2 separate regions of the Homo sapiens genome follow, and region 2 is linked to region 1. Evidence: fine-mapped expression QTL. A gene starts in region 1. The other region holds a variant in brackets. All regions are shown on one strand. Distances are between the middles of the regions.

The links. PIP is the estimated chance that this variant, and not a neighbour inherited with it, causes the effect.
Region 2: its variant is fine-mapped to the expression of TMEM240 in whole blood (TOPMed, PIP 0.93).

Annotation. Positions count from the first base shown.
Region 1 is chr1:1,538,837-1,543,090 of GRCh38, forward strand. TMEM240 (transmembrane protein 240) reads right to left here and starts at 1,788. Exons shown (of 4, transcript NM_001114748.2): 1 at 1,454-1,788; 2 at 848-954. The coding sequence starts at 1,510. It overlaps SSU72 (SSU72 homolog, RNA polymerase II CTD phosphatase), which reads right to left. Exons shown (of 5, transcript NM_014188.3): 5 at 2,837-3,331. The coding sequence ends at 3,230. RefSeq lists a silencer at 373-667.
Region 2 is chr1:1,567,536-1,571,789 of GRCh38, forward strand. All of the region lies in intron 1 of SSU72 (SSU72 homolog, RNA polymerase II CTD phosphatase), which reads right to left. Among named protein-coding and RNA genes, the nearest start is that of SSU72, 5.2 kb to the right of the region's middle. RefSeq lists an enhancer at 2,950-3,451. The variant CAGCT/C (reference allele first, on the strand shown) is at 2,300.

The sequences.
Region 1 (4,254 bases):
ACGAACACGGGTTCTGGGCTGGTGCCCCCTTTGTCCTTCACTAGCTGTGTGACCTTGGAAAAGCCTGTCCTCTAAATCCTCCGTCCACTTCCTCATCTGTTCAGCAGGGTTAACAGCGGCCACTGCGTGAGGGTGTCCTGAGGGGTGGAAGTGCATGCGTGCGTGCGCGGGGGCTGTGTGTACGCACATGTATATGCACAGACGCCACACACATGCGCGTCTCATGAGAAGATGTTTATTTCGTACATGGACGTACAAACATGCATGGCCAAGAGGATCCCATCGCTACACGTGCACAGAGGGGGTCACACGGTGGGTGCGGGGGGTCTGGGCGCTCCCCTCAATCTGAATGACCTTGAGGAAGCTCCACCTCCCCGCTGCCCCCCCAGCCCATCCCTCAGCTCCTCTCCAGCCCGGGGGTGGTGCCCAGTGCCCCTCAAGGCAGGCCCTTCCCGCCTTGACCTGCATTCCCCTGCCCAGGGACTCAGTGCAGGGCCCAGCCCTGTGCCAGCAGGCGCTTCCTGCCCCAGCCCTGATGAGGCTGGCTTGGGTCTCCACTGTGGACATCACACTGGGCTGCGGCTTTCCGGCCTCCAGGCTGGACCAGGAGGCCCCGTGACCCATTCCGCCATCACCCTGGAGGCCTCTAGGAACGGCGTCCTAAAGCCATGCGCCCCCAGGAGACCCCCGCCCACCTTGAGACAGCTCCTCCCCCTGCGCACCTGGCAGCCCTCAAGGGTGGAAGGCGGCTCGCGGCCTGCGTGGGGCTGGTTCCCCCGCGCCCCGAGTGGGCCCCGCCACACATGTGCGCTCACGCGTGTCGAGCCGGCGCCGGTTGTGGACTCACCGGCCACAGTTGCAGTGGCAGACGCGGTCCTCGCCCCGCAGGTGCGGGAGGATGTAGTTGTGGAATCGGTCCAGCAGCGCGTTCATGTCCATCAAGCACGCGATGGCCTGGAAGAGCTCATGACCGGTCAGCGCCAAGGAGCGGGCGGGACGAAGCGGGGCTGGGGGTGGGGAGCGCAGGCCGGGGTCGGGGCAGCGCAAGCGGGGAGCGAGAGCGCAGGCCGGGGTGAGGGGAGCGTAGGCCTTGGTAGGGGGAGCGCAGCGGGTATGGGGATCGCAGGCTGGGGAGGGGAGCGCAGGCCGGGGTGGGGGGAGCGCAGGCCCGGGAGGGGACCGCGGGCCGGGGAGGGGGAAGCGCAGGCCGGGGTGGGGGGAGCGTAGGCCGGAGAGAGGAGCGTAGGGAGTGTGGGGATCGCAGGTTGGGGAGGGGAGCGGAGGCCGGGGTGGGGGAGCGCAGGCCGGGGAGGGGAGCGCAGGCCGGGGAGGGGAGCGCAGGCCGGGGAGGGGAGCGCAGGCCGCACGGGCGGTAAACAAGGCGCGGGAGGTGGGCCAGGCGGCGCGCGCGGGCGGGGAGCAGGGGGCGCGCGCGGGAAGCCCCTCCGCTCACCATCACGACCGACGCCCCCAGAATCATGAAGATCATGGTGTTCGCGCTCATGGACATCGGGCGGGGCCGGGCCGGGCCGGAGCGCCGCCCCCCGGCCCCGGCGCCCCCCCGGCCCCGGCCCGATGCTGAGCCCCCGCCGCCTCCGCAGAGGTCAGCGCTTCCCTGGATCGTCCGCCGCCGCTCGCTGCAACCCCGGCACCGGCCGGGGGGAGGAGGCGCGGGGGGGGGGGCGCCGGGGAGGGACGCGGGGCCTTTCTGGGGTCTCTCGGCCCGGCCCGCCGCGCTCCGCTCCGCCCTCGGGTCCTCCCTGCGATGCGCTCGGCTCGGCTCGACTCGGCTCCGCTCGGCTCCGGCCCCCTCCCTGCCTCCTCCTCCCTCCTCCCCCCTCCCTCCCCGCCGCCTTCCTCCGCCTCTCGGGAGGGACCGCGCAGACCGCAGGCCGCCCCGTGCCAGCGCCGGGAGGAGACCGCCATCCCCCGGACGCCGGCCGGGACCCCTCCCCGGGAGCCTCGGCTTCGCGTCCCGCCCCAGTCTGGTCAGACCCAGCCCCGGTGGCCTGTCCGGTGACCCTGGACGCCAGTCCTCCGGTCCTGGAGGGGCGCCGAGGCCCTTCCCGCCCCACTGCTCCGCCCTACGTCCTGGACTCCCAGGTCGCCGGGTGCGGGACTGCCCCAGTCCGCTCGGCACGCACGTGCCTCCAGGGTGGGGTCCGCAAGGTCGCGACAGCCCCACGGCCGTGGGGGCCACAGGTCAGGGACGGGATGACCCCTGGAATCCTCAACGGAGGGATGTGGCACAGGAGCCGAGGGCAGGGCCGCCCCGCACAGGCTTCCCTTAGGGCGGGGACGAGGGGGTCAGCCCAGGCCCATGGGTCGGGACGCCGGCCATTCAGAGGCCCAGTGGCCACCACTCCGCTGTGGCTGTCCCTGGCTCGGGGTCCTGAGGCCAAACTCTCATCCACGACCGGTGACCATGTCTCAGGCCCGGGAGCCGACCCCCGGCCTCAGCAGGAAGTCAGCGGGAAGCTATGCCTGGGACCCAGCCTGGGTCGTGGCGCCATCCAGGCTCACTGCAGCCTCCACTCCTGGGCTCAGGCGATCCTCCCGGCTCAGCCTCCCCCGTAGCTGGCCTTGGGGGATCCCCGCCCGGGGGGGTTCCACATGGAGAGGGGACGCCGCTCCACCACAGGCAGCAGTTGTGGCAGGAGCAGGCGGCTTCCGCTTCAGGCAGCACAGGCACGGGTAGGCCCAGACCCTGTCAGCACCACCAGGTCTGAGCTACTCCTCCCAAGCAGTGGTCGGAGGTCACTGAGGGCGGCAGGGCTAGGCCTCTGCCACCTCCTCAGGGGCGAGGGTCGGGCCAGGAATTCAGGACCAGGCACAATGACAGCAGCATCTGTTTATTGACAATTCCAGGTCATTCCTAACACGCCGCAGCAGGGCTCTGTACAGTCCGGCCCGGTGGGGAGGAGGGAGGGAAGGCAGGCACACGAAGACACAGGTATGTCGGGAAGTGCACACAAACCGTTGTCTTTCCTTTTTGGTTAAAGAAGAAAAACTTTGTAATCAATATCCTGCTCATAAGTAAAAGTGGAAAAGAAGAAACTTGATTGCTTTCATCTGGCGTTTTGGCATCTCCTCTCCCATTTCATATGCACAGTTTATTTGGGTAATGCTACCGTCACCAGCAGAACACCTGTAAGTAAAAACAAATGTCAGGAAGGAAAAAGTATGAACAACAGGAAGCTCCAGAGGCGGCTCCATGCGGGCGCTGGGCTCAGTAGAAGCAGACGGTGTGCAGAAAGGTGCGGCCACTCTTCTCCTCGAACTCCTGCAGCAGCTCGTCGATCTCGTTCTCCATGTCTTCCGTGTGCTGGATCTGCAAGGACAGGACCGTGGTGAGGGCCTTGCCCACTCCTGCCTGTCTGCTCCCCCTAACACCTGGATCGCCAGGGAAACGCCAGGCCTGAGCCAGCAGAAACCAGCGCAGCAGGCAGGCCCTCACCCCACCGCTGCTGCCTCACAAGGACGGCCGGAGGCTGCAGGGGGAGAGCGTCCCGGGCAGCCCCCACCTCCCCACCGACCCTCACAGGACCTGAAGCTGGGAGGAGCTGGGAGGAGCCTGGAGCTGGATTCTGAGAGGGGCCCAGCACGGAGACCTGGCGGCCAGGGCTCAGACCCACACATGCACAGCGGGGCCGACCAACCCTCACCGCCAGCGCTTCCACACCACCAACAAGCGAGCGGGGGCAGCCTGGTCATCGGAGCATCCTGGCCTCCATCCACCAGAGCCCCTGGCAGAGGGCCGCTGCCCCAGAGTGAGCAGGCCCGGCTCCTAGGCACACCTGCCCTGGCACCGGCAGCTCGTTACTCGCCATCTCCACTGTCCCCTGGTCCCCAGCCTTGGCCAGCACCCAGTGCCTCTAAGCAAGGAGCGGCCTGTCTGTGACTCAGCTCTGGCCAACGTGACCCAAGCAGAAATCGTGCAATAACTTCTGGGACGACATTTTCTTATGACCTTTTCTCCTGCCAGGCGATCATGAAGACCGTCCCTGGCGCTTCAGCAGCCACACTGGACCGTGAGGCACGTGGGGACCAGAAGCCATGCTGGGTGGGCCAGGCGGAGCGCAGGAGCCTCTGCGGCCACACAGCAGCTTCTCCCAGCGCCCGCCCGCCTGGCTCCCGGGCTTTCCAAACACACCATCTTCTTTCTTGGTGAAGCTGTTCTGTTTTTCTGTCTTTCACAGACATTCATCAAATCACAGAGGCAGAGGCAGAGGCAGAGGCGGGACGGTGCGTGGG
Region 2 (4,254 bases), 29 kb after region 1:
TTGGTTGTGACTGAGAGGGTGACGGAGGCCCAGACACAAGGCATACCACAGGGAGCACACGTGAGAAACAACAAGCCTAAAATGACTTCCTTACCAATTCAGACAACATACAATAAAATATGTTCCGTCAAAGCACAAACAAGGGCCGGACGCGGTGGCTCACTTGAGGTCAGGAGTTCGACAACAGCCTGGCCAACATGGTGAAACCCTATCTCTACTAAAAATACAAAAATTAGTCATGGTGGCACACGCCTGTAATCCCAGCTATTCGGGAGGCTGAGGCAGGAGAATTGCGTGAACCCCGGAAGCGGAGGTTGCAGTGAGCCGAGATCGCGCCATTGCACTCCAGCCTGGGAAACAGAGCGATACTCTGTTTCAAAAAAAAAAAAAAAAATCGCACAAAGAAGCCCAGGATCAGCGTGATCACAGCAGCCAAAGGAGACAGCCTGCCTCCCAACACCAACAAGAACTCACCACCTGCTGGACGTTCCTTTAAGTTAGCCTATTTAAAAACAAAATGCAGTTTGTTTTTCCCCCAACAAAAGGTTCACGAATGGCAAAAAGGCTATTTAGCAACAGAAGCAGTATTTCTCCCAAACTGATGCAACCGACAGGGCAGCCAGCTTGCGACTCAACAGCGTTTCTTACATAAAAGCAAGGACAGCTTGGAAAACACTCCTGACACCAACAGGCTTCGCCTGAAGGGCCAACGCCTTTGTAAACTAATCTTCCAGACAAGTATTTGTCTGGTATGCCAAACAACTGTCTTTACAAGTACCAAAAATCTATCAGAGGGCTTGTAATCCCAGCACTTTGGGAGACCAAGCAGGTGGATCACTTCAGCTCAGGAGTTTGAGACCAGCCTGGCCAACATGACAAAACCCCGTCTCTACTTTAAAAAAAAAATAAAAAAATAAAAAAAGCCAGGCGTGGTGGTGCGCGCCTGTAATCCCAGTTACTCCGGAGGCTGAGGCTGGAGAATCGCTTGAACCCGGGAGGTGGAGGTCGCAGTGGGCCCCGTGATGGTGCCACTGCACTCCCGCCTGGGTGACAAAGTGAGACTCTGTCTCAAAAAAACTCCAAAAAACTATCATAAAGAAGCCATCAGGCGGGGCATGGTGGCTCACGCCTGTAATCCCAACACTTTGGGAGGCGGAGGAGGACGGATCACTTGAGGTCGGGAGTTTGAGACTAGCCTGACCAACATGGAGAAACCCCGTCTCTACTAAAAATACAAAACTAGCCAGGCGTGGTGGCTCATGCCTGTAATCCCAGCTACTTGGGAGGCCAGGAGTTCAATACCAGCCTGGGCAACACAGTAAGACCCTGTCTGTAAAAATAAATAAATAAATAAGGCCAGGCACGGTGGCTCACGCCTGTAATCCCAGCACTTTGGGAAGCCAAGGCAGGCAGATCACCTGAGGTCAGGAGGTTGAGACCAGCCTGGCCAACATGGTGAAACCCCGTCTCTACTAAAAATACAAAAAAATTAGCTGGACATGGTGGTGCATGTCTGTAGTCCCAGCTACGCAGGAGGCTGAGGCAGGAGAATCGCTTGAACTCGGGAGGCAGAGGCTGCAGTGAGCCGAGATCTTGCCACTGCACTCCAGCCTGGGCGACAGAATGAGACTCCGTCTCAAAAAATAAAATAAAAGAAAAAAACAAAAAAACAAAAACAAAAAGCCACAAAACAAACAAACAAAAAACCTAACTGGTTCCAAGGGGACACTTTAATCCTTGGAGCACCAAGCGCAGGAGGCTCTGTGGAAACGTACGGCGGAGTCTTCTGGCGCTGCCCTGAAACATGAGGACTCCCAGGACTCTGGTATTTGAAACAATTTAGTCTCTAACACCAAAGATGATCACCCCAGAGAACGCTAACATGTCGACACTTACTATCACTTGGATTTATCAGGAAAATAGAGTCCACGCTGATTTTCAATAGGGTGAAATTGTTACTGTGTCTGTTTTTAGAGACAGAGACTTGGTTTGTCGTCCAGCCAGGAGTTCAGTGGCGCAGTCACAGCTCACAGTCATAGCTCACCACAGCCTCAACCTCTTGGGCTCAAGTGATCTTGCTGCCCCGTCTCCCAAGCAGCCAGAATGACAGGCATGTGCAACCACATGTGGCTAAGTTTTAAAATGTTTTGTAATGATAGCGGGTCTCACTGTGTTGCCCAGGGCTCAAACTCCTGGGCTCAAGCAATCCTCCTCCCTCAGCCTCCCAAAGTGCTGGACTATAGGCCGAAGAGCCACCTTGCCAGGCCCAAAATTTTTAAAAGGGGCGAGGTTCACTGAT[CAGCT/C]AGCTACTGTGCCTGCTCAGTTAACTACAATTCCTTCTGACAATTTTATTTCAGCTTTCCTGTGCAGTTTTATGTAGCCCTACCCAACTGCATACAATTTTCCTGCTTTTTTCACTTACCATAAGCATTTCCTACGCTTTTCACATCATTTTTAACGCCTAAAAGACTCTCTAAATCTGACTTTCACAAGCTTTCCCAGTGTAACAGAAAAGCACTATCACACAGAGTTTCTGAGTATTAAAACTCTCTAAATAAACCCAAATCAATAGACAAAGGACATAAACAGGTAATTTTCAAAAGCAAAAATGCTCTGGGTGCGGTGCCTCACACCTGTAATCCAAATGCTTTGGGGCGCTGAGGCAGGAGGATCGTTTTAGCCCAGATATTCAAGGGTGAAGTGGTGAGCTATGATCACGCCACTGCACTCCAGCCTTACTCTGGCTTGAAAAAAAAAACAAAAAAAAAAGGGAAAATGACAACAGACATAAATTCCAACTTCAATAAGGCCAAGCTAGAAAACCGAGACATGGAAGAACACCCTGCCGACCAGAGGCCAGGAGAAGTGGAGTGAAATTTCCTAAGAGTCTGAAGGATTTCCTGCCCGTTACCCCCGAGACCCCAGTCATGACATGGAGGAAGAGCCACATGCAAGATGGACACAAGCCACAAGCTGTGCTGTGAACCTGGGCACTCAGCGCCAATGCCACCAGTCTGTGAGTCTCTGCAGGGACCCCCCCCACCCCAAAATCGGACTGCCAAATTCTCCCGTTTGACTGGGGTATTATAGAAAATTATTTGTATGAATAATGAAAATAAGCCATCTCGTGGCAAAAAAAGGAAACTAATGATGTGAATACTAACTATGGAGCAGACAACAGAACAAGAGCTTATCCCCGATGCATGCGTGAACACATGGAGACAGACGGACACCAAAATGGTACCTCTGAGAGACCACTTTCATTTTCTACAGTAAGAATTTCTGCAACAAGCAGGCTGGGCGTGGTGGCTCACGCCTGTAATCCCAGCACTTTGGGAGGCCAAGGCGGGCAGATCACGAGGTCAGGAGATCGAGACCACCCTGGCCAACACAGTCAAACCCCATCTCTACTAAAAATACAAAAAATTTGGCCGGGCGCGGTGGCTCACGCCTGTAATCCCAGCACTTTGGGAGGCCGAGGCGGGCGGATCACGAGGTCAGGAGATCGAGGCCATCTGGCCAACACGGTGAAACCCTGACTCTACTAAAAGCACCAAAAATTAGCCGGGCGTGGTAGCGGGTGCCTGTAGTCCCAGTTACTCAGGAGGCTGAGGCAGGAGAATGGCATGAACCCGGGAGGCGGAGGTTGCAGTGAGCTGAAATCGCGCCACTGCACTCCAGCCTGGGCGACAGAGTGAGACTCCATCTCAAAAAAAAAAAAAAAAAAAAAAAAAAAAAAAAAAAAAAGTTAGCTGGGAGTGGTGGCAGGCGCCTGTAGTCCCAGCTACTCGGAGGGTTTGAAGGAGAATCGCTTCAACCTGGGATGCAGAGGTTGCAGTGAGCCAAGATCGTGTCATTGCACTCCAGCCTGGGCGACAGAGGGAGACTCCGACTTCAACAAAAAAAAAAAAAAAGGAAATTGAAGGTCTATGTCTAAATTAACTTCATGATATCCATATTCATGATATCCATAATAGATGTCACCTTAAATTTACTTCCTTTTGACTCTCTTCTGAGTCTACTCTTTTATGAGTAAATTTGAATGATGGCGGCACAGGTAAAAGCACACCCAAGAATTCATTATTCAGAGGTGCTCTCCGCTCCTTTTCCAGAGACCACAGCTCTGCCAGCAACGGCCACTGGCCACTCTGAACTAAAAAGGACTTGGTCATCTTCAGTCATCGTCTCAGCGAGGTTATGACTGGCATGTCTTTAAAGTAGCCGCTAAACCTGATTTTATTAACAAGATAGCTA